Regions from separate parts of the Homo sapiens genome. Here regions 2 and 3 are each linked to region 1. Evidence: fine-mapped expression QTL. A gene starts in region 1. Each other region holds a variant in brackets. All regions are shown on one strand. Distances are from middle to middle. Region 1 holds the start of ARHGEF18 (Rho/Rac guanine nucleotide exchange factor 18). Region 2 overlaps ARHGEF18 (Rho/Rac guanine nucleotide exchange factor 18). Region 3 overlaps ARHGEF18 (Rho/Rac guanine nucleotide exchange factor 18).

Region 1 (8,176 bases):
CTTCTTCTGAGCTTACAGATCTCAGCTCAAATGGCCTTCCCTGACCTTCCCAGCTAAAGCATCAACCTCCCCCACCCACTCTATCGCATCACTCTGTTTACTTCCTGTTGCGGCAATTCACAGCACCTGAATTTATCTCCTAGGTGTGTTTCCTGATTCACTGTTTGCCTCCCCCAGCTGGAGCTCCTGCAGGGCGGGGGTTTGTGTCTGTCTTGTTCACCGTGATCCCACACCTGCCACAGTGCCTGGCATACAGTAGGTGCTCGATAAATGCATGTTGCCTGAAAGAAATAATCAACTGGTTACAGAATGGGTGTGTGCAAATCTGTGTATATCTGTGTCTCCTTGTGTTCTGTGTGTGTCTCGTTGGTGTGATTCTGGGGATGGCCCCACCTGTGTCCCCAGGGACAAGCGCGGCGCTATGGGCCAGTGAGTGTTTGTGGTGAGGGCTTTCCGGGTCTGTGTGTTAGTGATTTTGAGTGGTCCCGTGGCAACCGGTGTGCAAGTCAGTGTCTCCAGAGGTGTTCTCAGAGGTGGCCAGCATCTGCTCTTTTTTGTTGTTGTTGTTTTGTTTTTGTTTGTTGTTTAAGATGGAATCTCACTCTGTTGCCCAGGCTGGAGTGCAGTGGCATGATCTTGGCTCACGGCAACCTCCGCCTCCCGGGTTCAAGCCATTCTCCTGCCTCAGCCTCCCGAGTAGCTGGGATTACAGGCACATGCCACCACACCCGGCTAATGTTTATATTTTTAGTAGAAATGGGTTTTCACCACGTTGGCCAGGCTGGACTCAAACTCCCGACCTCAGGTGATCCACCTGCCTCGGCCTCCCAAAGTGCTGAGATTATAGGCATGAGCCACCGCGCCTGGCCAGCAGCATCTGCTCGTGTGTGTGTGTGTGTGTGTGTGTGTGTGTGAGTGTTCTGTGTGACTGTGGCTGTGAGTCCACATGTGTGTCGGGGTGTTTGTTGTGTATGTGTGTCTGCATGCCCATTCTGCATGTCCACATGACACTGCATGCTCCTGTGTGAAGTTGTGCCCATGAGCACACGTGTCTGTGTTTGCGTATCCTTGTGTGTCCTCTGGGTGTGTCCTTGAGCTTTGTGTTCCAGGAGCCTGCAGCCCTGTTGTGCAGCGCTGTTGTGCTCTGTTGTGCACGTGCATGTGTCTCGTGTCCTCTGTGTGTGGGGTGGCTCCTACATGTAGTTGTGCACACTTGTATCTGCCTCTGTGAGTCCCTGTGCCTATGTGTGACCATGTGTGAAGTGTGATTGTGCAGTATCCCAAAACCATCTGTGTGCACCGCTGTGCAGTAGTGTGCTGGTAAATGTTGAACCTCTCCAGTGGAGAGCACTGATTTATAGCATTGCCAGTCCTCATGGTGTAAATACTCTCGCCACAGCCAATTTCAAGTGATGCCACCGAACAGTGAGTCAGAAAGATATGGACAGCAGCAAACCATTATACAGTATTTCTACCAAACAGGTTCCATACACAAAAGCAACATCAAAAGCATAGATTATGAGGCCAGGTGTGGTGGCTCACACCTGTAACCCCAGCACTTCCGGAGGCTGAGGTGGGCGAATCCTCTGAGGTCCGGAGTTCGAGACCAGCCTGGCCAACATAGTGAAATCCCGTCTCTACTAAAAATACAAAAATTAGCCTGGTGTGGTGGGGGTCACCTATAATCCCAGCTACCTGGGAGGCTGAGGCAGGAGAATCACTTGAACCCAGGAGGCAGAGGTTGCAGTGAGCTGAGATTGCACCACTGCACTCCAGCCCGGGCAACAGAGCAAGACTCCATCTCAAAAAAAAAAAAAAAAAAAAAAAAAAAAAAAAAAGGAAAAGGAAAAAAAGCATAGATTATGGAAAATGCAGCAAAAATAATGTTAAAGTGATTAATTTAAATGTGGTAAAATAGGCATAACGTAAAATTTACCATTTTAACTTTCTTTAAAAAAAATGGGATTTCACTCTGTCACCCAGGCTGGAGTACGGTGGCACAATTATAGGTCACTGCAGCTTTGAACACCTGGGCTCAAGTGAGCCTCCCCGCCTCAGCCTCCGGAGCGGCTGGGACTGCAGGCAGGCACCACCAAATGTGGCGAAGTTTTAAATTTTTTGTAGAGTACTCACTCCAGTGACAGGCTGAAGCCAGCCCAAGAGCCAAGTTTAGTGGAGCATCATGGCTCATGCCTGTAATCCCAGCACTTTGGGAGGCCAAGGCGGGTGGACTGCTTGAGCCCAGGAGTTTGAGACCAGCCTGGGAAACATAATAAAATCCCTGTCTCTACAAAAAAAAAAAATTAACTTAGGCTGGGCGCCATGTCTCGTGCCTCTAATCCCAGCACTTTGGGAGGCCAAGGTGGGAGGATTGCTTGAGCCCAGGAGTTCGAGACCAGCCTGGGCAATATGGTGAGACCCTGTCTGTACTAAAAATACAAACCAAAAAAAAATAGCCAGGCGTGGTGATGTGTGCCTGTGGTCCCAGCTACTCAGGAGGCGGAGGTGGGAGGATCACTTGAGCCCAGGGGATGGAGGTTGCAATGAACCAAAATCACCCCCACTGCACTCCAGCCTGGATGACAGAGTGAGAGCCTGTCTCAAAAGAAAAATTATATATAAAAAATTATATATAAATTATATATAAGTCTATATATAATCCATATATAATTATATATAAAGTATATATAAATTATACATAAATTATCTGTAAACAAAAAACTTAGCCAGGCATGGTGGCATGTGCCTGTAATCCCAACTACTCAGGAGGCTGAAGCAGAAGGATCACTTGAGCCCAAGAGATTGAGGCTGCAGTGAGCTATGATTTTTCCACTGCACTCCAGACTGGATGACAGAATGAGACCCTATCTCTAAAAATAAAATAAACAGTTTTTTGTTGTTGTTGTTGTTGTTTTCTAAAAAAAGCCAAATCTGAGCATTTCCTATCAACTCCACACTCGGTGACATCACACTGGTAGGTGAAATCGGCCATGCTGGGGGTATTTACACCAGGAGAATTGGCAATGGCTACAAATCGGAGAGGTGGTTGTTAAACGTTACCAGCACACCATGTTGTTCCGCCAGCTTCCAGGTACCCATGTAACAATGTAGCCACGTGTGTTTCTGTCTCTCTGTGTGTACCCACCATGCTGGTGTGTGTCTGGGTGCCTGAGTCTCTACGGATACACATGACCTGCACGTCCCTATATGTTGCTGTCTATACACCCATGTGCCTGGGTGAGGCCCCCACACCCTGTTCCTCTTCAGCAGTTGGTTCCACAGGAAGCTGCTGGGGTGGGGGTTGAGGACGCTGGGCCTCCCTCCAGCTCCCCACCCCTCCTCCTCAAGACACCTGCATGCGCAGGGCTGAGGGGTGGGAGCAGGGCTCTCTGCCTCCAGAACCCCCATCCTCTGGGCTCTTTTTAGGCCCCTAGATTGGCCTGCAGCTGGGAGCAGAGTGGCAAGCATGCAGGCAGGCAGTTGAGAAAGAGGAAGTCGAGGTGCTATTGGGTCATTCTGTGGTTATCCCAGGCTCTACCCAGCCAGCGGTTCCCTTGGGCCAGCTCGAAACGCTGGCCGTAGGTCATGGGAGCTGCAGGAGCTGTTAGCCAGGCTAGGTGCCTGCAGGTTGAAGAACTGAGCTCTATCTGGTAAGTACTTATCCTGGGAAGTGGAGAGAGATGGACCCATCGGGACAGAGTGGCAGTGGGGTCTGGGAAGTCTAGGGGGACAGCGAGCAGACATACATCACTGTTTCTCTCCCCCTTGCAGTCAACTTGCTTCCTGAGTGGGTGGGGGAAGCTGTTTGACCCTTGCGTTCATTGTGCAGAGATCTGTGGTCATAAGAGGTCACCCCAGGGGACGGGGATCCTTGAGGGGCTGCTAGGTAAGAAAGGAGGGTGGAGGCCGGGCGCGGTGGCTCACACCTGTAATCCTAGCACTTTGGGAGGCTGAGGAGGGCGGATCACTTGAGGTCAAGAGTTGGAGACCAGCCCGGCCAACATGGTGAAACCCCGTCTCTACTAAAAATACAAAAATTAGCCAGGCGTGGTGGCGGGCAGCTGTAATCTCAGCTACTCGGGAGGCTGAGGCAGGAGAATGGCTTGAACCCGGGAGGTAGAGGTTGAAGTGAGCCTCTCAGTCTCAAAACAAAGAAAAGAAAAAGAAAAGCAAAGAAAGGACGATAGAGCTCCTTGTAGCCAAGGCCCTCCTGCGTGGAGACAGGAGACAGAGAATGAATGGGGGAGCTGGGGCAAAGGCTCAGGTGCCCTTTGCATCTTAAACTGCAGATTCCGGGCCCCCCAAGAACCTCCCTGTTGCAGATTCTGAATCCACTGTCAAAACAAACTCACACTTAAGGCTGATGGCTGACAACCAGCCCTGAGAAGGGTCTTGTCCTGATCTGAAATCATCCAGAGAGCACATCCCTCCACCCAGGCAGCCTTCCTCCAGGTGAGGGTTCTCCCCCTTGGGAGACATCCCCTGTCTCCTCTCGTGGCCCCTTCTTAGGGGGACCTCCTGCACCACCGCCTGCCTGGGACTGGGAGGGGTGGGGGAGGAAGGCTGCGGTTTCTGCTGGGCACACCCAGTCTGTTGTTTCCTGCCAGCCCCCAATGCTGCAGGGCAGGCTTCAGGCACCCTGAGGTCTAGGAAGGTGGCCCCAGAACCAGGAGGGAGTGAATTGAGCTAGAGTGGACAGCTGGGGCCAGAGAGGATGGAGCTAGGAAGTGACGCTGGGGGCTGATGCTCCAAGGCCAGGTCACCTGCAGTTCTGAGAAAAGAACATGACAACCAAAGGAGGTCAGGAAAGGGTTGCCCTCATAATCAGCCACATTTCAACTCCCTTGCTGTGACTGGGAGTCACTCTGGGAGGGCTGCTTGGTAGAGGCAGCCTTTTCATTATGCCTTGAAGAACCAGTAGATGGCAACTGCAAACACGTCGGTGCTTCTGGTCTGGGCTGTCTCCCATGCCTCCCTGGGCATCCCCTAGCCCATGACAAAGGGATGGGCATATGTTGATGCTCGATACTGTTGTAGATGACATGGTGACTGTGTTGGACAGCTGGGCGTTCAAATCCCAGTTCCCTGGCCTCTATGTGGCCTTGGGCAAATGACTTAACTGCTCTGAGCTTTCGTTTGCTCATCTGTTAAAAGGCTGTTGAGTTTTTTGGGGTGGGTGTGTGTGTGTGTGTGTGTGTGTGTGTGTGTGTGTGTGTGTGTGTGTGTGTTGGAGATAGAATCTTGCTCTATCGCCCAGGCTGGAGTACATTGGTGCAATCTCAGCTCACTGCAACCTCCGCCTCTCGGGTTTAAGCAATTCTCCTGCCTCAGCCTCCCAAGTAGCTGGGATTACAGGCACACGCCTCCATGCCCAGCTAATTTTTGTATTTTTAGTAGAGACAGGGTTTCACCATATTGGTTAGGCTGGTCTTGAACTCCTGACCTCAGGTGATCTGCCTGCCTTGGCCTCCCAAAGTGCTGGGATTACAGGCATGAACCACCTCGCTCAGCCTTTATGAAGTTTGGTCTGTGAGATCTTAGTGCAGTGTCTGGCACGTAATAGATCAGAAAACATTGTCAGCCTCACCTATGCCTTCATACTGACCTTGTCCCCAGGCCTTCCTTCCTGAGCAGTCCCACCATCTTCTGAAATGTTCTGGGTCATACCCATGGTGGATCTCAATCTGTAAGCAAGTCTGCTAGAGTGGACTTCTTTTGTTTGTTTGTTTGTTTGTTTGTTTGTTTGTTTTGAGATGGAGTCTTGTTCTATTGCCCAGGCTGGAGTGCAGTGGCACGATCTCGGCTCACTGCAAGCTCCACCTCCCGGGTTCACGCCATTCTCCTGCCTCAGCCTCCCAAGTAGCTGGGACTACAGGCGCCCGCCACCATGCCCGGCTAATTTTATGTATTTTTAATAGAGACGGGGTTTCACCGTGTTAGCCAGGATGGTCTTGATCTCCTGACCTTGTGATCCCCCCACCTCAGCCTCCCAAAGTGCTGGGATTACAGGCATGACCCACTGTGCCCAGCTAGAGTGGACTTCTTAAGGATCCCATCCAGCCATCCCTGTATCATATGCTACTGTATTTTCTCTCTGCCTCTCTCTCTCTCTCTTTTTTTTTTTTTTTTCTGAGACAGAGTTGCCCAGGCTGGAGTGCAGTGGCACAGTCTCAGCTCACTGCAACCTCCACCTCCTGGGTTCAAGCAGTTCTCCTGCCTCAGCCTCCTGAGTAGCTGGGATTATAAATGCATACCACCACACCTGGCTAATTTTAGTAGTTTTAGTAGAGACAGGGTTTCACCATGTTACCCAGGCTGGTCTTGAATTCCTGACCTCAGGTGATCCACCTGCCTTGGCCTCCCAAAGTGCTGGGATTACAGATGTAAGCCACTGCACCTGGCCTGTTGTATTTTTAATTCTAGCATCTTTATCTCCTGTAGGGCTGTTGCTATTGTCTGTGTTTCTTCTTGTTTTTTGGTCATGAGGTTCTGTCTTCTAGTATGCCTGGTAGTCTGATTAAATGCCAGGCCTTGTTTGTGAAAAACTATAGGGATAATTTGTGTCTCTTTATGGTGTCATTTTCCTCCATAGAGCGTTTATTTTTGCTTTGGGCAGGCAGTTAGAGAAAGGAAAGATCACTTTAATCTGATTGTGACCTATGCTGACTTGAAGATGGATTTTGCTCTCGGTGAGGGCTAGTCTATGTCTGGTCCCTCCTTGCTCCTAGGGTGTAGTCTTTTAGGGGTGGCAATCACCTCCTCTTTTTGGGCCCTGAATTCCAATGTTTATTTCCCCAACATAAGATTGCTAAGAGCTACATTCAGGTTCTCAGGCTTTTTCTGGTCTGCCTCCCACTCACTCAAGAACTGTGTTCAAATCAACAACTTGTTTGTGAGGGAAAAGCATTACATTATGTCCTTCTCACTTTCCTAGGTTTCCTTTTTTTTTTTTTTTTTTTTGAGATGGAATCTCACTCTGTCACCCAGGCTGTCGTGCAGTGGCATGATCTGGGCTCACTGCAAGCTCCACCTCCCAGGTTCACGCCATTCTCCTGCCTCAGCCTCCCGAGTAGCTGGGAATACAGGTGCCTGCCACCACGCCCGGCTATTTTTTTGTATTTTCAGTAGAGACGGGGTTTCACAGTGTTAGCCAGGATGGTCTCGATCTCCTGACCTCATGATCCGCCCACCTCGGCCTCCCAAAGTGCTGGAATTACAGGTGTGAGTCGCCGTGCCTGGCCTTTTTTTTTTTTTTTTTTTTTTGACATAGACTCTTGCTCTGTCATCCAAGCTGGAGTGCAGTGGCATGATCTTGGCTCATCACAACCTCTGCCTCCCAGGTTCAAGCGATTCTCCTGCCTCAGCCTCCTGAATAGCTGGGATTACAGGCATCCACCACCATGCCTGGCTAATTTTGTATTTTTAGTACAGACGGGGTTTCACCATGTTGGCCAGGCTGGTCTCGAACTCCTGACCTCCAGTGAGTTGCCCACCTCGGCTTCCCAAAGTGCTGGGATTACAGGTGTGAGCCACCGCGCCTGGCCCCTAGGTTTCCTTTCTTTCCAGGGCCGTGATTCTTCCAACTCTGACTGCCAATGCCTTCCAAGCAAGGGTGGTTTTTCACTCTTCCAATTTTGTCCAGCTTTTCTATTTGTTCTTGGTGGGAGAATAAATCTGCAATAAGCTAGCCTGCCATCATTAGAAATACATATTCCAGCTGGGTGCAGTGGCTCACGCCTGTAATCTCAGCACTTTGGGAGGCTGAGGTGGTTGGATCACCTGAGGTCAGGAGTTCGAGACCAGCCTGGCCAATATGGCAAAGCCCTATCTCTACTAAGAATACAAAAAATTAGCCAGGCATGGTAGCGGGCGCCTGTAATCCCAGCTACTTGAGAGGCTGAGGCAGGAGAATCACTTGAACCCGGGAGGCAGAGGTTGCAGTGAGCCGAGATTGCGCCATTGCATTCCAGCCTCAGCAACAAAAGTGAAACTCCATCTCAAAAAAAAAAAAGAAAAAGAAAAGAAAAGAAAAAGAAAAAGAAATAGATATCCCTGTTGTATTTTTTTAAAGTGAGATTTAGCCAGGTGTGGTGGCTCACACCTGTAATCCCAGTACTTTCGGAGGCCGAGGTGGGAGGATCACCTGAGGTTAGGAGTTCAAGACCAGTCTGGCCAA
Region 2 (8,176 bases), 85 kb after region 1:
CCAGGCTTTATCCAAATTTCACCTATTTTTCTGCTCCAGAATCCAGCTCAGGCTCCCACATTGCACTTGGTGGATTTAACTTTTGAGATACTTCCCTGTCATTTTTTATTTTTCTTTAAAAGAAATGAAGGCCGGCTCTGTCACCCAGGCTGGAGTGCAGTGGCATGATCATGGCTCACTGCAGCCTCAAGGTCCCAGGCTCAAGCGATCCTTCTGCCTCAGCCTCCCGAGTGCTCAGGACTACAGGCATACACTACCATGCCTGGCTAATTTTTTTTTTTTTTTTGACAGATGAAGTCTCACCATGTTGGCCAGGCTGGCCTCAAACTCTTGACCTTAAGTGATCCTCCCGCCTCAGCCCTGCAAAGTGCTGGAATTACAGGCATGAGCCACTGTACCCAAATACACAGCTCCCAAAATTAACACAGGCCAGGCATGGTGTTGCCTGTAATCGCAGCACTTTGGGAGGCTGAGGTGGGAGGACAGCTAAAGCCTGGAGTTCGAGATCAGCCTTGGTAACATAGGGAGACCCTATCTCTATAAAAATATCTAAAAAATTAGCTGGGCATGGTGGTATGCGCCTATAGTCCCAGCCACTTGGGAAGCTGAGGCCAGAGGACTGCTTGAGCCCAGGAATTCGTAACTGCGGTAAGCTAAGTCTGTGCCACTGTACTCCAGCCTGGGTGACAGAGCGAGACCCTCTCTTCAAATAAATAAGTAAATAAAATAGAACAATAATGCCCACATCCATAGACAATAAATAAATATACCAACCATCCTCAACCTAAATGTTATACTTCATAACAAAAATGAACTCCAGCACTTTGGGAGGCCAAGGCAAAAGCATCACTTGAGTCCAGGAGTTCGAGACCAGCCTTTGCAACATAGCCAGATCCCATCTCTAAATTAGCCAGGTGTGATAGCACACACCTATGGTCCCAGCTATTCGGGAGGCTGAGGTGGGAGGATCACTCGAGACAAGGAGGTTGAGGCTGCAGTGAGCCGTGATCGTGCCTGTGTACTATAGCCAGGGCGACAGAGTGAGACCCTGTTTCAAAACATAAAAAGATAAAATAACAGTAGTACCTACTTTTGAGTCATTGTGAGGACTGCAGGACTTAAGAAATATTAAGTGAGGCCGGGCACGGTGGCTCACCCCTGTAATCCTGGCACTTTGAGAGGCCGAGGTGGGCGGATCACTTGAGGTCAGGCATTCGAAACCAGCCTGGCCAACATGGTAAAACCCCGTCTCTACTAAAAATATAAAAATTAGCTGGGCATGGATGTGGGCGGCCATAATCCCAGCTACTCAGGAGGTTGAGGCAGGGGAATCGCTTGGGAGGCGGAGGTTGCAGTGAGTCAAGATCGTGCCACTGCACTCCAGCCTGGACGACAGAGTGAGACTCCATCTCAAAAAAAAAAAAAAAAAAAAAAAGGCCGGGCTCAGTGGCTCACGCCTTTAATCCCAGCACTTTGGGAGTCCAAGGCGGGTGGATCACCTGAGGTCGGGAGTTTGAGACCAGCCTGACCAACATGGCGAAACCCCGTCTCTACTAAAAATACAAAATTAGCGGGCGTGGCGGCGCATGCCTGTAATCCCAGCTACTCGGGAGGCTGAGGCAGAAGAATCGCTTGAACCCAGGAGGCGGAGGTTGCGGTGAGCCGAGATTGCGCCATTGTGCTCCAGCCTGGGCAACAAGAGCGAAACTCCAGCTCAAACAAAAGAAATACTAAGTCCTCAGGACACAGCCTGGAATGCAAGAAGCACTCAATAAATAGTACCTGTTGCTACGAATTACCACATTTTTTTAAATGGTATTTTGGGGGTTTGACGTGTAGTTTGGGGTAGGAGGCTTTTCGTTTTGTTTTTTGTTTTTGGATAGTACCAGGTTTGGGAAGAATATTCTGAGTCATACTTACCTTCTAAGCTGCAAGATGTCTTTTTTAATTTTTCTTTGTCCCCTGAGGTGCGGGATGAAGGGGTTTTTTTCTTCCTCCTACCTTTTTATTCTTTTTAATACTGTCTTGCTTGTGTAACATCAAAATGAGGCAAGAAAGAGAAATCAATGAAGTCATCTTCTCATCGATTTAGTCTATTCCCAGGTGGCCGAAAAGGCAGGAACTGTGAACTGAAAACTTCATCTGGCATCAGATTTTCTTTAATTGTCTCTCGAACACTCACCAGTAAGCCAGTGCTTGCTAGAACTCTCTAGAGCCAGGTTGCACTCTCAGCCTAAAAGAAAAGTCTTGGCTGAAACAAAGAACAGAAGGATGGGTGGGGACAGAAAACCTCCCTAAATGTGAGAAAAGGAGTCATTATTTCTGAGACCAGGCCTTGAAACCGAGGTGCTTGTCTGGTTCACTTGTTTCTTTCTTTTTGTTTTTGTTTTGTTCAGAGACAGGGTCTCACTACGTCGCCCAGGCTGGAATACAGTGGTGCCATCATAGCTCACTGCAGTCTCGACCTGCTGGGCTCAAGGGATCCTCCTGCCTCAGCCTCCCAAAGTACTCAGATTACAGACTTGAGCCACCACTCCCAGCCCTGTTTGTTTCTTGAATAGTCCTTTGCAGAAAACTGGAGACTTATGGACTAGGGCCCAGCTGCCTTCAAAAGATGTTTGGGGTCCCTTTACAAGTGAGAGGCTATATAGGAATCTGCAATTTAAGACAGGCAATTCTTGCTTACAAATTGGCATTTCTGGAAGTCAGTGTGCCTCTAGATTATTTATAAAGGACAGTTTGAAACCAATTAAGACAGTCACTTAATATGTCATATCAGGTCCGGGTACACTGGCCCATGCCTATAATCCCAGCACTTTGGGAAGTCGAAGCGGGAGGATCACTTAAGGCTAGGTATTCAAGACCAGCCTGGGCGACATAATGAGACCCCCGTTGCTACAGAAAAATTTTAAATTAGCTGGGCATGGTATCACACACCTGTAATCCTAGCTACTCAGGAGGCTGAGGCTGGAGGATCCCTTGAGCCCAGGAATTGGAGGCTTCAGTGAGCTGTGATCATGCCACTGTACTCTAGCCTAGATGATGGAGCGAGAATGTGTCTCTCTTTAAAAAAAAAAAAGAAGGCAGGCCGGGCACGGTGGCTCACACCTGTAATCCCAGCACTTTGGGAGGCCAAGGCGGGTGGATCACCTGAGGTCAGGAGTTTGAGACCAGCCTGGCCAACATAGTGAAACCCCGTCTCTACTAAAAATACAAAAATTAGCTGGGTGTGGTTGGACACACCTGTAGTCCCAGCTACTCGGGAGGCTGAGGCAGGAGAATCACTTGAACCCAGGAGGCGGGGTTGCAGTGAGCCAAGATTGCACCACTGCAGGGAGGCGGAGGTTGCAGTGAGCCAAGATCATGCCACTGCATTCCAGCCTGGGTGACAGAGCAAGACTCCGTCTCCAAAAAAAAAAAAAAAAAAAAAAAAAGTGTATCAGGTTTTCTTGGACATCACTTTGAACAGGCTAGTAACTACTCAGCCGTTTTCATGTAATTTTTGGTGAGTCCTGTTCCTGTAAGACCTAATAAGGAGTGTGCTTGGCTGTCAGAGGACAAAGCCTGTGGCTTACAGGATTTATGAGAGACTGAGTCACAAAGGAAGCACAGCGGCACTGGAAAAAGTCTGGGGTCTTAGGCTGGGTGCGGTGGCTCAGGCCTGTAATCCCAACACTTTGGAAGGCCGAGGCAGGCGAATCACTTGAGGCCAGGAGTTTGAGACCAGCTTGGCCAACGTGGAGAAACCCTATCTCTACTAAAAATACAAAAATAGCCAGGCATGGTGGCAGGCACCTGTAATTCCAGCTACTCG[A/G]GGGGCTGAGGCAGGAGAATCACTTGAACCTAGGAGGCGGAGGTTGCAGTGAACTGACATCACACCACTGCACTCCAACCTGGGCGACAGAGTGAGATCTGTCTCATTAAAAAAAAAAAAAAAAAGAAAAAAAAAGTATGGAGTCTTTTGTCCCAGTAAAGTAATGCAGGTGGGATCCTGACACCTGTTACGAAAGCTTTGTCATCTAACTTGCTCAGAGATTGCTCTTGTTTTAGTGTTTTTTAAAAAAACAAAAAATTTATAGAGACAGGGTCTATGTTGCCCAGGCTGGTCTCGAACACCTAGCCTCAAGCGATCCTCCCACCTCAGCCTCCCGAAGTGCTGGGATTACAGGCATGAGCCACTGTGCCTGGCCAGGGACTACTCTTGAATTCATGAAACCAAGACAAAACCAACTTTTAAAAATCACCCTGAGGATAGGCCACTGTCTGTGTTTGTTGCTGAGAATAGGGTATATTTTTTCCCCCTCAGGTCAGAACTGTTTTGATTTTCACCGTTCACCTCTTTCCATCCATCCTCCAGGTCCCCTTGCAGAAAGAGCTCTGCGGCATACAGTGGCCACAGCGGGCCAGGTGCTCACTAATCGATCGCACCTCTCAGCAGTGGGCAGGAGGCGCTAATTAGACTCTGAGTAGCTTTTGCAGCTGCACAGAAAGTGCTGGACAGCACAAGCTGAACCCCAAGCACCATGGCCGTCTGCTGTAGGAAAAACCGTAGCAGGAGATAAATATGTATCCCTGTCTCTCTCGGAGCCAAGAGCAGAGCGACTAATTCCCACCATATGTTGAGCTGCAAATCAGATGTTTTGCTCTCCTCCCACAGAAAGAAGCCTGTCCATCACAGGTGTGAGTTTGTTGGTTGAGCAGGTTTATTGAGACGTAATTCACAGACCATACAATGCACCCATTTAAGAGTACAACCCAGGGGCTTTTAGTATATTCAGAGTCACCGAAATGGATCTTAGAACCCCAAAAAGAAACACCATAGGCCAGGCGCAGTGGCTCACGCCTGTAATCCCAGCACTTTGGGAGGCCAAGGCGGGCGGATCACCTGCGGTCAAGAGTTTGAGACCAGCTTAGCCAATGTGGCAAAACCCCATCTCTACTAAAAATACAAAAATTAGCTGGGCGTGGTGGCAGGCACCTGTAATCCCAGCTACTCGGGAGGCTGAGGCAGAATGACTTGAACCTGGGAGGTGGAGGTTGCAGTGAGCCGAGATCACCCTCACTGTTTTCCAGCCTGAGTGACAGAGCGAGACTCCATCTCAAAAAAAAAAAGGCGTCAGAAGATCTGAGGCTCTCCCATCCCTGGCAAGCAGACTTCTGGCCTCTGGGCAGCTGGTGTTTTAGGGTACCCAGGATTTGTCTTAACCCAGTATGGTGAGACTCACAGACCCAGAAATGACCGTCAGGAAGGAAGAAGTTTATATTCACAGTCCTCTGGAAGCAGGAGGCAGGGCACACCACACAGGGGCCACATGGGGAAGCACCAGGGTCAGTTGAGGGACAGAGGGGAAAATATGGACAGGAGTCTTCATTGTGGTTTCCCGGGGAACAAATGGGCCAGGCAGGGTGAGCAGGTTCAGGATGGGGCCCCGAGGTGATGAGGGCAGCGGGACCGTGGCCAGGAGTGTGAGAGCCCCATAAAGGAGGCAACTGGGGGTCTGAGCTCTGCACTGGGTGCAGACCCTTTACTGTCTCTAGAAACTGGCCTGGGAGGGGCTGTGCATCCATGGTCAGCAAAGCCCCAAGATGTCAGAGCATCACAAATCCGGAATAAAAGGACATAATCAATACAGCGGGTCTGTGGCAGGGCCACTGACTCATGTCTTGACCCATCAGCTATTTCAGTGGCCGCATGTGTTCCAGGAAGACTCAATTTATGACTGTCCACCTCTTATTCTATTTCATTTCATTCTTTTTCAGAGTCTTGCTCTGTCACCCAGGCTGGAGTGCAGTGGGGCAGTCATAGCTCACCACAGCCCTGAACCCCAGGGCTCAAGCAATTTTCCCACCTCAGCCTCCCAGGTAGCTGGAACTACTGGCACACACCAACATGCCTGCCTAATTTTTTGTTGTTGTTTTTTAAGAGACGAGATCTCACTGTGTTGCCCAGACTGGTCTCTAACCTGCTGTCCCTGGTCATGACCCCAACATGTGAAAACTTCAGTGTCTTCTAAATCATCAAAGGAGGGTTTACATATATTCCCATAGATTTAGCATTACCAATAGTTTATTAAAATTCTTTGGAATCAGCATTTCTTCTTTTTTTTTTTTTTTTTTTGCCATCAACTTGATTTTGGGAATTGGCATTGCTTACATGCTGTTTTTTTTGTTTGGTTTTTTGGTTTTAGTTTTTTTCAAGACAGGATCTCACTCTGCTGCCCAGGCTGGAGTGCAGTGGCATGATCTCGGCTTACCACAACCTCTGCCTCCCAGGCTCCAGCAATTCTCCTGCCTCAGCCTTCTGAGTAGCTGTGATTACAGGTGTGCACCACCACTGCCAAGCTAATTTTTGTATTTTTAGTAGAGACAGGTTTTCCCCATGTTGGCCAGGCTGGTCTTGAACTCCTGACCTCAAATGATCCACCCCGCTCGGCCTCCCAAAGTGCTGGGATTACAGGTGTGAGCCACAACACCCAGCCAGATGCTATTTTTAGTGACTTTTTCTTCTATGGACTATTGTATTAGAGCAGAATTAATCTGATTTCAGTCAAGACCTCAGTCCACAAGCAACCATCTGTCAGCCCTGCCAGGATGCTGCTGGGCAAAGGATACATCTCGGGATTTGCGCCATATTTGTACGTTTAGGTCATAATTGCCTGGGTGGAGTTGAGTGTTGTACAGAAATGGCAAGAAATGCCTGTCCTGGACCGTGTCGCCTTTGGTTTAGGATTCCTGTTTTTTTACATAGGTGTTGCTTTGTGAGTGACATCTTCAATTGCTTTGTCTCCTATAACAATAGTAATTGTTAGTCATGTGTTATGACGTCAGAATGTTTCTGGCCTCTGAACAAATGTCATCTTTGCTGTGCTGGGCTGTGGAAAGAATGAACAGCTACTGAGTATATGTGCAATGTGCTGTTACACAGCTTAGTGGCTGATGTCTTAATTGGCAAGAATTCTTGACTCCTCTGCCAGAAAATCTCTAACACACACTCACCTGCTCGTTAACAATCACCTTCAATTTACAGCTAAATTAAAAGTTGCTCAGAGGCCGGCTACGGTGGCTCAAGCCTGTAATCCCAGCACTTAGGGAGGCCGAGGTGGGTGGATCACCTGAAGTTGGGAGTTCGAGACCAGCCTGACCAACATGGAGAAACTCCGTCTCTACTAAAAATACAAAATTAGCCGGGTGTGGTGGCACATGCCTGTAATCCCAGCTACTCGGGAGGCAGGAGAATCGCTTGAACCTGGGAGGCAGAGGTTGCGGTGAGCTGAGATCACGCCATTGCACTCCAGCCTGGGCAACAAAAGCGGAAATCCGTCTCAAAAAAAAAAAAAAAAAGTTGCTCAGAGAATGCTGAATCCTCTCCCAGGAGAGCTGCTGCGAGTACGTTTTCCCTAGGGTAAGCTCTGCCCACCCCATGGTTTATAACTCCGTGTTCCCAAGAAAGAGACTTCTAGCTGCTCTCTTCCTGTAACATAGACAAGGCAATGGTGTATCGGGACCTAGGAGCCAGGAGGCCACAGGACAGATCAGATTTCTTTTTTTTTTCTTTTTTTTTGTGAGATGGAGTCTCACTTTGTTGTTCAGGCTGGAGTGCGGTGGCATGATGTCAGCTCACGGCAACCTCTGCCTCCCGGGTTCAAGCGATTCTCCTGCCTCAGCCTCCCGAGTAGCTGGGATTACAGGTGCCCGCCACCATGCCCAGCTAATTTTGTATTTTTAGTAGAGATGGGGTTTCATCATGTTGGCCAGGCTGGTCTCAAAATCCTGACCTCAGGTGATCCACCCGCGTCGGCCTTCCAAAGTGCTGGGATTACAGGCATGAGCCACTGCACCTGATCTGACAAATCAGATTTCTATTTCTCTTCTCTAAGCTCCTCTCCTCTCCTCTCTCCTCCCCTCCCCTCCCCTCCCCTCCCTTCCCTTCCCCTCTCCTCTTCTCTCCTCTCTTCTCTCTTCTCTTCTCCCCTCCCCTCCCCTCCCTTCCCCTCTCCTCCCTTCTCCTCCCCTCTTCTTTTCGAGAAGGTCCCGCTCTGTCACCCAGGCTGGAGTGCAGTGGCACAATCATAGCTCACTGCAGCCTTGAACTCCTGGGCTCAAGCAATCCTACTGCCTCAGCCTCCCGAGTAGCTGAGACTACAGGCGTGCGCCACTTGTGCTCAGCTATTTTTTT
Region 3 (8,176 bases), 110 kb after region 1:
CACATCAGCATCTTTAAGGATCTTGAGGGAGTCATTGAGGTGGCCAAATGACAGCACTTGCCCACTCATCATTTGAGTAGGCGTGTATTTCGCAGACAGGTTTAGCGCCTTCTGCCTGCCAGGCGCCGAGTTGGATGGTAGGAATACACCCCACCGGGCAAGACCTGGTGCCTAGCCTTTTAAGGCATCAGTCACTGGGCTGAAAGAGAGAAACAAGCCAAAAAACGGAAAAACTAGTTAGAAGTCCAGCACATGCTTTAAGGAAGCCAGCAGGCTGCAGTGTGAGAGAATTAGCAAAAGCGTATCTGACTTAGACAGGGGTGTTGGAAGCAGCTCCCCAAAAGTGGCGTTGCCCTTGAAACGCAGCTCAGGATTTGCATCTATGTGCAGGAAGCCTTACAGCACGAGAGGTTCATACAGGGACAAGGCGCCAAGGGGGACTGAGGGGCACGAGGGGACTGAGACCACCCCTGGCCTGCATCGCTGCTGTGGCTCGGGTCCTGGTGACCCAGGAGCAGGGAGAACAGAGAGCTCCGTTCACATCTGAGACATCAGAGGGAGAGATGTTGTATTAGTCCGTGTTCATGCTGCTGATAAAGACATACCTGAGACTGGGCAACTTACCAAAGAAAGAGGTTTAATGGACTTAAACAGTTCCACCTGTGGGGGAAGGCCTCACAATCATGGCAGAAGGCAGGAGGAGCAAGTCAAGTCTTACATGGATGGCAGCAGGCAAAGAGAGAGGGAGCTTGTGCAGGGAAACTCCCCCTTATAAAACTGTCAGATCTTGTGAGACTCATTCACTATCACGAGAACGGCATGGAAAAGATCTGCCCCCATGATTCAATTACCTCCCACCAGGTCCCTCTTACAGCACGTGGGAATTCAAGATGAGATGTGGGTGGGGACGCAGCCAAACCGTATCAGATTCTCAAAGGTCAGACCCAGCAGGTGTTGTTACAGCAAAGAGAATTGCCGGGCACAGTGGCCTGACATGGGCGGGAGCCCTGGTTTGAGCTCTGGACACGGAAGGGACTTAGAGGAGGCTCCGGCTGCTCGTTGGTGCTGAAGGTTGAGACCTGGAAAGGTGATGGGGGGTGCAGGCAAGGCAGAAAGGAAACTTCTAGGCCCAGGCAGAAGCATCATGCTGCTTACACCTTCCTGGGAAGTGGCATCCGCGGGGGTGGCCAGCAAGACCTCCTGGCTATGGGACTTTTAAGATGCATCCTTCCATGCTGTTTTCCCAGATATCCTGGCTATCCTGCTGACCGACGTACTTTTGCTGCTACAAGAAAAAGATCAGAAATACGTCTTTGCTTCTGTGGTATGTATCCTGTCTCTTCAGACGAAGGGTCGGCTGGGTGCTGTGGCTCACGTCTATAATCCCAGCACTTTGGGAGGCCGAGGTGGGCAGATCACTTGAGGTCAAGAGTTGAAGTCCAGCCTGGCCAACATGGTGAAACCTCACCTCTACTAAAAATACAAAAATTAGCCGGGCATGGTGGCCCATGTCTGTAGTCCCAGCTACTCAGGAGGCTGAGGCAGGATAATCACCTGAACCCAGGAGGTGAAGGTTGCAGTGAGCTGAGATTGTGCCACTGCTCTCCAGCAAGACTGCGCCACTGCTCTCCCGCCTGGGCAACAGAGCGAGACTCTATCTCAAAACAAAAAAACAAAACAAACAAACAAAAAACAGACGAAGGGCCCTGCTTGCTGTGACCTTGTTGGGAGGTTGGCTGAAACTGCCCATGGAAGGGGCACCTGTGAGTTTTCCAGGCCCACATAGCTGGGATTACAGGCGCCCGCCACCACGCCTGGCTAATTTTTTGTATTTTTAGTAGAGACGGGGTTTCACCATGTTGGCCAGGCTGGTCTCCATCTTCTAACCTCAAGTGATCCTCCCGCCTTGGCCTCCCAAAGTGATGGGATTACAGTCGTGCGCCACCGTGCCCAGCTGCTGGTGTGTTCTTAACCAGTGTATTTGTTTGCTGAGGCTGCTGTAAACAAAGTACCATGGACTGGGTGGTTTAGACCACATAAATTTATTGTCTCATGTTTCTGCAGGCTGAAAGTCCAAGATGAAGGTATCAGCAGGGTTGGTTTCTTCTGAGGCCCCTTGGCTTGTAGGCAGCCATGTGCTCATCTGTTCTCTGTGTCCTCGAGTGGCCATCCCTCTGTGTGTGCCTCTGTGCTAATCTCCTCTTGTTAGAAGGATGCCAGTCAGATTGGATTTGGGCCCGCCCATATGATCTCATTTTGCCATAATCACCTCTCTTTTTTTTTTTTTTTTTTTTTTTTTTTGAGACAGTCTCACTCTGTCGCCCAGGCTGGAGTGTGCAATGACACAATCTCGACTCACTGCAACCTCCACCTCCCGAGTTCAAGTGATTCTCCTGCCTCAGCCTCCTGAGTAGCTGGGATTACAGGCACCTGCCGCCACACCCGGCTACTTTTTGTATTTTTAGTAGAGATGGGGTTTCACCATGTTGGCCAGGCTGGTCTTGAACTCCTGACCTTAAGTGATCTGCCTGCCTCAGCCTCCCAAAGTGCTGGGATTACAGGAGTGAGCCACCACACCCGCACATTAATCACCTCTTTAAAGGCCCCATCTCCAAAGACAGCCACATTCTGAGGTGCTAGGGCTCAGGACTTCATATGAATTTGTGGGGAACACAGTGTAGCCCACTCTAGCCAGTTAAAATGTGCATTTTGCTGGTCTGTGGAAGCATTGTCTCTTGAAGGATGCGTGACAGACTAGAAATACCGGTGGCTCTGGGTGGCCTGAGGCACAAGACAGAGATGGGTTTATCTGTTGTTATATACTACATACCGTTGTATCTTTTGAGCTTTCTCGTGTGTATGTGCATTGCCGACTATTTAAAAAAAAATTTTTAAGCTGATGAAATTGACACATTATCGGGATACTAAGGGGCAAGATGGCTCACTCCTGTCATCTCAGCACTTTGGGAGGCCGAGATAGGAGGATCACTTGAGCCTAGGACTTCAAGACCAGCCTGGGCAACATAGTGAGATCCCATCTCTACAAAAAATACAAAAATTAGCTGGGCCTGGCGGCACGTGCCTATAATCCCAGCTACTCAGGAGGCTGAGGTGGGAGGATCACTTGAGCCCAGGAGGTCAAGGCTGCAGGGAACAATGATTGCACCACTGCACTACAGCCTGGGTGACAGAGCAAGACCTGGCCTCCAAGATAGTTTAAAAAAAAAAAAAAAAAAAAAAAGGTTTCTAGGATTTCACTGCAATAGTATCTTTTTTCCCCCAGATGGCAAAATATTTCCGCTTTGAATTGTTTGAAAAGAAATGAGGAGCGTGACCCCCACTCTTAGTTCCCCTCACCAGGCCCTTGACCTCCCTGCTGTTTGGGTGCTGTGGGGTAAAGGGTGACCTCCCCAATGCCCTCTACTCATGCAGGACTCAAAGCCACCCGTCATCTCGTTACAAAAGCTCATCGTGAGGGAAGTGGCCAACGAGGAGAAAGCGATGTTTCTGATCAGCGCCTCCTTGCAAGGGCCGGAGATGTATGAAATCTACACGAGCTCCAAAGAGGACAGGAACGCCTGGATGGCCCACATCCAAAGGGCTGTGGAGAGGTGAGGAGGGCCTGGGGGTCTCCCCACCCACTGTGTTCCTTCCGCTGATTGGTCCACCCTTGGCTTCGACCGTTGGCCATCAGCTGTGACCTTGAACTCCCTCATCCCAGCTTGGGACCCATGACGCCATTCCAGCTCCTTCTGATGACTCAACCTGTTGGACGTTGAGGCCAACGGGCCCAGAAAGGCAGCTGTAACCTGGGCCTTTCTGCATGCGTGGGCCACTGCACCTGCCATGGCGGGCTCTCTGCATTCTAGGGCCAGATTTGTTGGAGCAGGGCATGGCATCTTGTCCTTCCTCCTTGGGCCGAGCACCCCTCAGGGCCCAGAACCAGCTGGCTTCCCCTCCCTCTCTTTATTTTTTATTTTTTTGAGACAGAGTCTTGCTCTGTCACCCAGGCTGGAGTGCAGTGATGCAATCTCGGCTCACTGCAGCCTCCGCCTCCCAGGTTCAAACGATTCTGCTGCCTCAGCCTCCCCGAGTAGCTGGGATTACAGGCGTGAGCCACTGCGCCCAGCCTATTTTGTTTTGTTTTGTTTTGTTTTTTAGAGTCTGGCTCTTGCTCTATCACCCAGGCTGGAGTGCGCTGGCACAATCATAGCTTATTGCAACCCAAACTCCTGGGCTCAAGCCATCCTACCCCCTCGGCCTCCCAAGTAGCTTGAACTACAGGCATACACCACCACACCCAGCTAGATTTTTTATTTTTGTAGAGATGGGGCCTCACTGTGTTGCCCAGGCTGGTCTTGAACTCCTGGCCTCAAGCCATCCTCCTGTCTTGGCCTCCCAAAGTGTTGGGATTACAGGCGTGAGCCACCATGCCTGTCCACTCCCTCTCTTGATTCCCGGAGGCTTCCTGGTGCCTTAATCTGGTTCAGACTCCCCCATCCACAGTAGCTGTAGCTCTACGGGGCTTGCAGCCACCCACCTGCACCTGGCAGGTCCTCTGCAAGCCCGCTGTCCCCTGGACTCCTCCTCTAAGTCACAGGCAGGCATGTAAAGCCTCTTCCTGGTTATGCCCTGGCGCTTTGGGGCGGGATGAATGTCAGTGGCTCTCTCTCTTCCCCTCCTCGTCCTCCTGCACCACGAACAAGCTAAATCACTCCCAAAGTCAGAGACGGTCGTGGCGGCTGGTTCTGCAGAACCAGCGTCTGTGCCGAGGCTG[G/C]CCTGCCTGGGAAGCACAGTTACCCACCCGACTCCTCTCCCTGCAGCTGCCCTGACGAGGAGGAGGGGCCCTTCAGCCTGCCCGAAGAGGAAAGGAAGGTGGTCGAGGCCCGCGCCACGAGACTCCGGGACTTTCAAGGTGAGCGGGAGACAGCGTCTGGGCACACCCCTTGTGTGGTGAGCCCTGGGCCCTCCATCAGGACTGGCCACAGAGGGTGAACTGCCCCCCAGGTGACCCGGTGTTTTCCCGTGGGCTGTGCCATGTCCTGCAGCTCTGTGAAGCATTAGAACGGGCTGTGCCATGACATAGCGATCTCCAGAGGTCACTTAGCCCTTTGGGGGTATGTGGGAGAGGGAGGGAGGAGAGCCCAGAGGACCTGAGCCCCTTCCAGAGCCGACCACACAGCCACACACGCCACCACCACCCCATCCTCGTGCAGCCAGGAGCTCAACAGGGCATCCCAGTCCCATACGAAGGAATAGCACAGGGTCCCCACAGCCTCCTTCCAGAGCTTCCTCCTCCCTGTTTAATTACACGATTGAGATGTAATTCACACACCACAGCACTCACCCTCCCAAGCGTGGGGTTCAGGGGCATTTCAGTGCATTTCCAATTATGCAGCCAGAATCATGTTAACTTTAGAACATCCCACCACCCCAGAAAGAAGCCCCGTCCCCCTTAACAGTCACTCCCCACCCCATGCCCCAACCCTGGCAACAGGAATCTACTTCCTGTCCCTGTAGATTGGCCTGCCCTGGACATTCCACATAAATGGAGTCACACCGCGCGGCCTTTTGGGTCTGGCTCCTCTCGAGGTGTGGTATTAAGGTTCGCCCGCGCTCAGTGAGCACTTTGTCAAGAACAATTCCTGGTGCCCTGTAGCCTGCGGCAAGCTCCCTTCTTCCCTTTCACTGTCTGTATTTTTTTTTATTTTATCTTCTTTTTTTTTTTTAAACAGAGCCTCGCTCTGTCACCAGGCTGGAATGCAGTGGCGTGATCTCGGCTTACTGCAAGCTCTGCCTATCAGGTCCAAGAGATTCTCCTCCCTCAGCCTCCCGAGTAGCTGGGACTATAGGCACCCGCCACCACGCCCCACTAATTTTTGTGTTTTTAGTAGAGATGGGGTTTCACCATGTTGGCCAGGATGGTCTCAATCTCTCGACCTCGTGATCTGCCTGCCTCGGCCTCCCAAAGTGCTGGGATTACAGGCGTGAGCCACCGCTCCCGGCCCTGTATTATTCATTTCTAAATTGGATAATACTCAAACAATAAGTGGCCTGGTATGGTGGCTCATGCCTGTAATCCCTGCACTTTGGGAGGCTGAGGCAGATGGATCACTGGAAGCCAGGAGTTTGAGACCAGCCTGGACAACATGGCAAAACCCTGTCTCTACAAAAAATTTAAAAATTAGGCTGGGTGCGGTGGCTCACGCCTGTAATCCCAGCACTTTGGGAGGCCAAAGCAGGTGGATCATTTGAGATCAGGAGTTTGAGACCAGCCTGGCCAAGATGGCAAAACCCCGTTTCTACTAAAAATACAAAAAATTAGCCAGGCATGGTGGTGCGTGCCTATAGTCCCAGCTACTCGGGAGGCTGAGGCAGGAGAATCGCTTGAACCCGGGAGGTGGAGGTTGCAGTGAGCCGAGATTGTGCCACTGCACTCCAGCCTGGGCGACAGAGCGAGACTCCTTCTCAAAAGAAGAAGGAAGGAAAGAAAGAAAGGGAGGATGGAAAATTCAGTTTTCTAAGGCTCTAAGTTGGTCCCAGACTAATAAATGGGCCTGATACAATCCTCACTCACACCCTACTGTGTTTGATTTTATTTTATTTCTTTTAGAGACAGGATCTTGCTTTGTTGGCCAGGCTGGAGTACAGTACTGCAGTCATAGCTCACTGCAGCCTTGAACTCCTGGGCTCAAGCGATCCTCCTGCCTCATTTCCCAGGCATGCACCACCACAACCAGCTAATTTTTTATTTGTAGAGACAGAGTCTCATTATGTTGTCCAGGCTGGTCTCGAACTCCAGGCCGCAAGAGTCCTCCTACCTTGGCTTCCCTAAGTACTGGGATCGCAGGCCTGAGCCACCACAGCTAACCTGATTTTTATAACAAGGGGGAAAATAATCAGAGGACAAGGCCATGCCCTCCCCTACCTCCCAGGAATGCAGGACACAAGGGGGCAGCCTACCTCAGGGCAGGGCCAGCGGGGTTCCTCATCCTTAGGCCAGTCCCCGGGGCTCAGATGATTCCAGGGAAGGCCGACCCGGCTGACTGCCACCTCCACCATCACTCTGCAGAGCGGTTGAGCATGAAAGACCAGCTGATCGCACAGAGCCTCCTAGAGAAACAGCAGATCTACCTGGAGATGGCCGAGATGGGCGGCCTCGAAGACCTGCCCCAGCCCCGAGGCCTATTCCGTGGAGGGGACCCATCCGAGACCCTGCAGGGGGAGCTAATTCTCAAGTCGGCCATGAGCGAGAGTAAGTTGGCTGCCCACACCTCAAGGGTGCAGTCTTGCCGGGGTGGGCTCCTCAGGGAACCCCAGGCCAGGCTCACGGCTCATTGTGGCCGACACGGCACCCTGTCCAGGACAGGCTTCTATGTGGGGGGGGCCCAGGAGCAGCACTGACCGCCCCCCGGTGCCTGTGAGAGCCAGAAGGGCCTTAGACATAATCTGGGCCAAGCCGCTCCTTGCAGACATAAAGCACTTTCTCCCCGTTCAACAACCGCTCTGATGCTCCCTGCATGCAGAGGCTCTAAGCCGGGCCGTGGGGAGGATCTGAAGTTGACTAAGACTGGTTCCCTACCTACCAGAGGTTCCTCTTCTTCCTGGGAGGTGGGTCCTGGTGATATCCCCAGAAAAACACACGCACACTCCCTCAGTGGGTCCCCACGCACAGCTCTAACACAGCCGCCAGGCCCCTGGGCTGGCCGCTTGAGCAGGCAGTCAGCGCCCAGTCTGCTCTTTCTTTTTTTCTTTTCTTTTTTTTTTTTTTTTTTGAGATGGAGTCTCGCTTTGTCACCCAGGCTGGAGTGCAGTGGCGTGATCTCGGCTCACTGCAACCTCCACCTCCTGGGTTTAAGTAATTCTGCCTCAGCCTCCTGGGTAGCTGGGATTACAGGCACCCACCACCACGCCCAGCTAATTTTTGTATTTTTCGTAGAGATGGGGTTTCACCATGTTGGCCAGGCTGGTCTCGAACTCCTGACCTCAGATGATCCACCCTCCTCTGCCTCCCAAGGTGCTGGGATTATAGGCGTGAGCCACCGCGCCCTGCCTCAATCTGCTCTTTCAACAGTGAGGGAAGCCGACTCAGCCCCTGCCTTCCAGAGCCTTTCCGCAGAATAAGACGGCAGAGACGGGGGTCAGTCTTTCTCCCTCCAGGCCCACTGACATCCTT

What was found.
Region 2: its variant is fine-mapped to the expression of ARHGEF18 in skeletal muscle (GTEx, PIP 0.97).
Region 3: its variant is fine-mapped to the expression of ARHGEF18 in whole blood (TOPMed, PIP above 0.99).

Annotation. Positions count from the first base shown.
Region 1 is chr19:7,345,592-7,353,767 of GRCh38, forward strand. ARHGEF18 (Rho/Rac guanine nucleotide exchange factor 18) reads left to right here and starts at 3,346. Exons shown (of 29, transcript NM_001367823.1): 1 at 3,346-3,650.
Region 2 is chr19:7,430,099-7,438,274 of GRCh38, forward strand. The region is part of intron 10 of ARHGEF18 (Rho/Rac guanine nucleotide exchange factor 18); the gene reads left to right. Among named protein-coding and RNA genes, the nearest start is that of ARHGEF18-AS1, 39 kb to the left of the region's middle. RefSeq lists a silencer at 6,139-6,326. The variant A/G (reference allele first, on the strand shown) is at 3,815.
Region 3 is chr19:7,455,080-7,463,255 of GRCh38, forward strand. It overlaps ARHGEF18 (Rho/Rac guanine nucleotide exchange factor 18), which reads left to right. Exons shown (of 29, transcript NM_001367823.1): 18 at 1,248-1,324; 19 at 3,433-3,611; 20 at 4,824-4,915; 21 at 7,073-7,255. Among named protein-coding and RNA genes, the nearest start is that of PEX11G, 30 kb to the right of the region's middle. The variant G/C (reference allele first, on the strand shown) is at 4,778.